Linked DNA regions of Homo sapiens: region 2 is linked to region 1. The links come from fine-mapping of genetic effects on gene expression. Tissue or cell type: lung. Region 1 holds a variant in brackets; the other region holds the start of a gene. All regions are shown on one strand. Distances are between the middles of the regions.

Evidence for each region. PIP is the estimated chance that this variant, and not a neighbour inherited with it, causes the effect.
Region 2: it holds the start of SCUBE2, and the variant in region 1 is fine-mapped to the expression of SCUBE2 in lung (GTEx, PIP 0.95).

What each region holds. Positions count from the first base shown.
Region 1 is chr11:9,055,369-9,058,272 of GRCh38, reverse strand. SCUBE2 (signal peptide, CUB domain and EGF like domain containing 2) reads left to right here. Exons shown (of 23, transcript NM_001367977.2): 10 at 2,364-2,480. The region is part of intron 1 of NRIP3-DT (NRIP3 divergent transcript); the gene reads right to left. Among named protein-coding and RNA genes, the nearest start is that of MIR5691, 34 kb to the left of the region's middle. The variant T/C (reference allele first, on the strand shown) is at 1,222.
Region 2 is chr11:9,090,051-9,092,954 of GRCh38, reverse strand. SCUBE2 (signal peptide, CUB domain and EGF like domain containing 2) reads left to right here and starts at 1,356. Exons shown (of 23, transcript NM_001367977.2): 1 at 1,356-1,559. The coding sequence starts at 1,427. It overlaps MIR5691 (microRNA 5691), which reads left to right and starts at 2,576; the gene lies at 2,576-2,643.

The sequences.
Region 1 (2,904 bases):
CAGGCTGGTCTCGAATTCCTAACCTCAGGTGATCCGCCCTCCTAGGCCTCCCAAAGTGCTGGGATTACAGGCGTGGGCCACCGCACCTGGCCCAGCACTTGCTTTAAACCATCAGCCTTTGATCTTTGAAGAGAGGGAAGGCAGAGAGGGAGGGGGAGGGCTTGTGGGGAGGAGATGCTTGTTGATCCTTAGAGAGGATTTCAGACCCCTTCTCAAACACATCCTTCCCATATAAGGGCTGCAGCAAGGAGACTTCTCTAGGTAGCAGTTGTTGTTAGTATTAGCAGCTGTTTTGGGTGGGGGAAAGCTGTTTTCTATTTTTAGATGAGCACCTTCCCTTTGATATGCAGAAGAAGTTCTCAGGAAAGATGTGCTGTAATGTATTCTTGCTCCATTTTTGGGAATAAGGACTAATTTATTTTGTTAGAAATCTCAGAATTAGGCTGGGTGTGGTGGCTCACACTGTAATCTCAGCACTTTGGGAGGCTGAGGCAGGTCGATCACTTGTGGCCAGGAGTTTGAGACTAGTCTGGCCAACACGGCAAAACCCCGTCTCTACTAAAAATACAAAAATTAGGTGGGGGCATGGTGGAGGGCGCGGTGGCGGGCACCTGTAATCCCAGCTACTCAGGAGGCTGAGACACCAGAATCGCTTGAACCCAGGAAGCAGAGGTTGCAGTAAGTCGAGATCATGCCCACGCACTCCAGCCTGGGGGATAGAGCGAGACTCCATCTCAAAAAAAAAAAAAAAAAAATCAGAATTAAATAAAAATCAGAGTATCAGATTTCATCTTAGATAACAAAGATGTAGCATTACCTTTTTACAAAAATATTATGGTGTGATGTTTGTTTTGTTTTTCTCTTGGTTTGTTCTTAATGCATAATTTGTCAGGCAGTTCAAGTATATTCCTCTTTAAATTCAGTAAGTTAATTCTAGATAATTATTGTGTGGTTTTCTTCAGTTTGACTTGGAAAGCAAATTTGCTGTTCCACATAATGTTTCCTAGTGTATAGAGCAGGCAATACTGTTGAAGCTGTGTAAACACATTAAAAAGGAATTAGAAAAGTGATCTCATTATTTTTGGCAAAGCAAAAGCCCATACTGAGCAGCCAAAGTCAGCTACTGAACAAGTGCACTTTCTCGACAACTGGCTGATATTAATAACAGATTTCATAAAATGGCATCAATTCCTAGGGAAGAAACTAGGTTTTTCTCATTTT[T/C]CACTGATCGGTCTTGGTAGAACAAATACTTGCACAGAACAAATTTACTGAAGAAATGCCAGGATTTCTGGGAAAAGCTAGGGATGAAGAGGTTTTGCAAGAATTTGCCCTTTTTTATTTTGCTTTTTCATTCTTCCTGTTCCTTCCACATTTTTGCCTTTTATTAACATAGTTTCTCATGGCACACTCGGTGTTGAAAAAAGTGGTCTAGCAGTGGTCTAGTTGGCTTCGACTGAGTGCGGCACTGGTCCTGGTTTATCCATTTGGAGACACAAGTCGTAACTATGTTAAAATCCTCCAGAGTTCAGGGAGTGAAGCACTCAAATTCCAGCCTACAAGAAAGAGGTTGAGGGCCAGACCCAGGGAAAGAGATGCTGAGATGGACAAATGCAGCCTCCTGAGGCTGCTGTGCATGACCCCCGCTGCAGCCAAGGAGGCTTCCACACTGAACCAGGAGGCTAGCAGACTCATAGGACTGGCACATAGGGGAGGAGCAAAACCAAGGCATCGGCCAAAAGCATCCAATGTGGAGCTGAACTACCACATTTCAGGGCCTGCAAAGAGAAAATTAGTGAGGATATTAGTATTGATGCATTCTTTCAGTGCAGAGGGCATTAAAACCTAGGATTAACTGGCCTCTTGGGGCCAGAAGACTAATTCTGAGAAAATAAGAAAGGGATGGGAACTAGATTTACCTCCAAACCAAGTGTTTTCTCCTTTCAATTTGCCGTAGTTAATAAATTAATATTGCTGTTTTACTAATAGTTATATGACAATAAAAATGCATAGCTAGCACCTGTAGCTTACAAAACCCTTTTTAGGTATGTTATCTCATTTGGCTTCATTTAAACATTTTAAATTAGCCCTGCAAGTACGCATGGGTGAAAGAGACCAACTGAGTTTTGAGGGAAGTGCAGTTTGCAACAGAATGTGGAAATGAGGGCCGTGGCAGTCAGTATACTTCTTGTGGGCTGCTCCACACTTTCTTTAACACAAGTGAGTGAGGAAAATGGATAGATAATGTTTTTTACTCTGTGTGTATTGTTTTTGGTGTTGGTCAGCAACTGGTATTTATCATAAACCTATTCTTCACTCATCCCTCAGAGTGGGTTTCAGCTCCCCTCTCCCTTTGACCATTACAGATGTGGATGAGTGCTCTTTGGATAGGACCTGTGACCACAGCTGCATCAACCACCCTGGCACATTTGCTTGTGCTTGCAACCGAGGGTACACCCTGTATGGCTTCACCCACTGTGGAGGTGAGCAGACTGCCCCTGTCAAGTTGGGAGGGGAATGAGGCTGGGCCTGGAGGGGAGCAGGGCCTACCCCTGAGGTTTGCTTTCCTACATTGGGGTATGAAAGGTACATTGCAGTCCCTGAGCAATAGCGGTGAGTCCATCAACTTGAGAGCAGGATCTGCTAAAGGAAATCTCCCCACATGTATCCCTTTAACACACCGAGTGTGAAATGGAGCAGAGAGAAGAACTGAGCTCTTCCAGCTGTGAATTCTCTATCGACTTGATTGACTTGCGGCTGTATTCAGAGAGTGGAAGGGTATCTCAGGAGCTGATAACCTATCTATTGGAACATCTCAGCAGATAGTAAAGTCACAGTCCTCAGAGAGGCTTGGGGGGCACCCACCAATTCCACAGCCCTGCTATGCATAGGAACTGGCTGCAAAGC
Region 2 (2,904 bases), 35 kb before region 1:
TTCTCAGATAGCTCCATCAAGCAGCTGCACTAGCCACAGCCCAAAGAGGCAGGCCCCCGTGGGCATGTTCGGGGGCTGGGGTGGCAGACAGTGGGTACTGAGGGTGCAGAGGCTGGGAGCTCTGGGCTGTGGATAGGCCCCAAGAAGACATAAGAGTTTTTGTGCATGAGCTAGGTGGGGATTTTTTGGTGACATCTATTTTTTTTCTGATCTCCAAAGGAATGGTGTGTGTGTGTGTGCGCGCGTGCGTGTGCCTGCATATATACATATGTGTATGTATATAATCGCAGGAGAAAATTGAATAAATACGGAGAAGCTCAGTGAAGAACATTACTATCCCTAAGTGTGATGTTTGGTTGCGTCCGGAAATTGTTACTATATTTGTTCCTGGAGTGATGGTGGGTGTATTGGGCTCCAGCCATCCGTGTCAAGTGTGATATGGGAAGACCCTGTGTACCTGTTCCCTTGCAAGGACTGTCTTTCATGGAAGGCTAGGTGCTAGGCCCTGCCTGTGTTTGAAGCTAGCCAGACCTGATGTTTATGAGTTCAGGTGATCGTAAATGCCACCTGTACTCCGGCAAAGTCGGGGCTGCTGTCTGTTGTCTCTGGTGGCTCACCTTTGACCTCTAGCCCCCTTCCCCTTAGGCTGCCCTGAGATATACATAAGTAGCTTGCAGGGATTCTAGGCCCAGTGTGCCCCACAGTGGGACAAGTGGACCAGTGCCCTCAGGGCTGTGGGATGGAGGATCCCAGAGGGCCTGGGGTGGGCAGTGTGGAGAAGGGTGCAGAGGGTGTGCTGGGGTGGGCAGAGAAGCCAGGGTCACCTTCTCCATTCAAACAGCTGTTTTCCCGAATTGGAAGTCACCCCCAATTCCTTCCACTCCCACCTCCCACCTCCCACGTGGAAAGCCCCAAGATGGCTTTGGGGTTTGGGGACTATACGGAACACTTTCTGGGCGCCCTGACCCCGAATATTTCAATCTAGAAGGGCTGTTTGTCCTCACATGAGGGCCTGGGTCGAGTTGTAACACACTGGAACAGGCGCGGCACCGAGGGCTCCGAGCGTTGGAGCGGAGCGGGGATGCGGGGGGCAGCGGGCTGGGTGCCAGGGCTGCGCGGGGCGCGAGGCACGGTGCTGCCGCCCCGCCAGGCTGACAGCCGCGCTCGGGCCACCGCGGCCGCGCCCCCTCCACCCGAGGCCGGGGAGGGGACGGGAGGAGGCCGGGCGGGGCGGCACTGCTCCCGCCTGCGCTTCCCGCCCCGGCCCGGGAGGGACCGTGTGAAAATGAGGCCGGGGCTCGGGGGGCGGGCGGGGCCGGGCCGGGGGTGGCAGCGGCAGCGGGCAGGGCGTCCGCGCACACCTCCCCGCGCCGCCGCCGCCACCGCCCGCACTCCGCCGCCTCTGCCCGCAACCGCTGAGCCATCCATGGGGGTCGCGGGCCGCAACCGTCCCGGGGCGGCCTGGGCGGTGCTGCTGCTGCTGCTGCTGCTGCCGCCACTGCTGCTGCTGGCGGGGGCCGTCCCGCCGGGTCGGGGCCGTGCCGCGGGGCCGCAGGAGGGTGAGTGTCCGGCCGCGGGGGCGCACCTGGCACAGCAGGCAGGGCCAGGAAGAGTGTTTAGGTCCCCGGCGGAGTCCAGAGCCGGGCGCGCGGGGCTCGGGGCTGGCGGCTGCAGCTCCGCGGGGGCCTCTGCTCCCCCCGGGACCTCACCCGCCGGCCGGGCCAAGGCGCCACGACCGCTGGGGCCCTGAGTCCTTCGGCCCGGCCTCGGACCCGGAGCTGCTGACGGTTCCCGCCCCGGTCCGGATGCCTCCAGAGCGCCTGCTAGTCAGACCGTCGCCGGCGAGCAGGCAGGAGGGTGCGGACCCTGGCCTTGGGGTCCCGCGCCTCAGCGTAGGCGGGGAAACTGAGGGCCGGGCCGGGCACATCCGCGAGGCGGTGGCAGCTTTGCCGTTTCTTTCTTTGGGGGCCGGCAAGTTCTGCTGATGGCTTCGGGGTGGGCTCCAGAGACTTTTCTGTCAGCGGAACAGCGCCTGTTCCGATCTGGGAATTACCCTGAAGCAGCAACAAGCCTAGGTTTTCAGCAGAGAACTTTGGTTTCCAGAGAGGACTCTGGACGTGCTGTGCTTACTGGACTTGCAATACTTTCAAAATGCTTTTGTTTTTAATTAATATCCTGGAGTAGTGTCAACCCAGGAAATACTTCTGCCAAGGCGGGTTTCCAGGTTGAGAGGATGGGCAGGGGTGGGAGTGCAGGGGGCCGGCCATGGGGACACCATCCCCGCTTCGCAGCATCTGAGAGCCCTGGATGACATCTGCTCCGATCCCGGGGCAGACTTCCCATAAATACTCTAAACCAGCGGGGTGCAATCTTTTGGCTTACCTGGGCCACAGTGGAAGAAGAAGAATTGGGCCACACATAAAATATACCAACACAAACGACAGCTGATGAGCAAAAAAAAAAAATAAATAAATAAATAAAAAAAAAATCTCATAATGTTTTAAGAAAGTTTATGAATTTGCATTGGGCCGCATTCAAAACTGTCCTGGGCTGCACGTAGCCCACGGGCTGTGTTGGACAAGCTTGCTCTGAGCTCCGAGAAAGCTGACAGACAGCTGCTTGGTGTTCAGAGCTTGTCTGTCCGTTTGGTCCTTTCCTCCTTTAGCGGGCATGTAGGTACTATTGCCTACTCACATGCCAGGTACTGCGCTGGCTTGGCATAAGGGACACAGACGCAGTCTGTTGTCAAGACATTGTCTAGTGGAGAGAGAGGAAGGAAAACAGTGACAACCCTGCCTGATGTGTGCATGCAAAGCCATACATATGCGAGCACTTGGTGAGGGCAGCTACAATGGGGGTCATGGCAGGCTTCCTGGAGGAGGTGGATTTGAGCTAAGTCCTGAA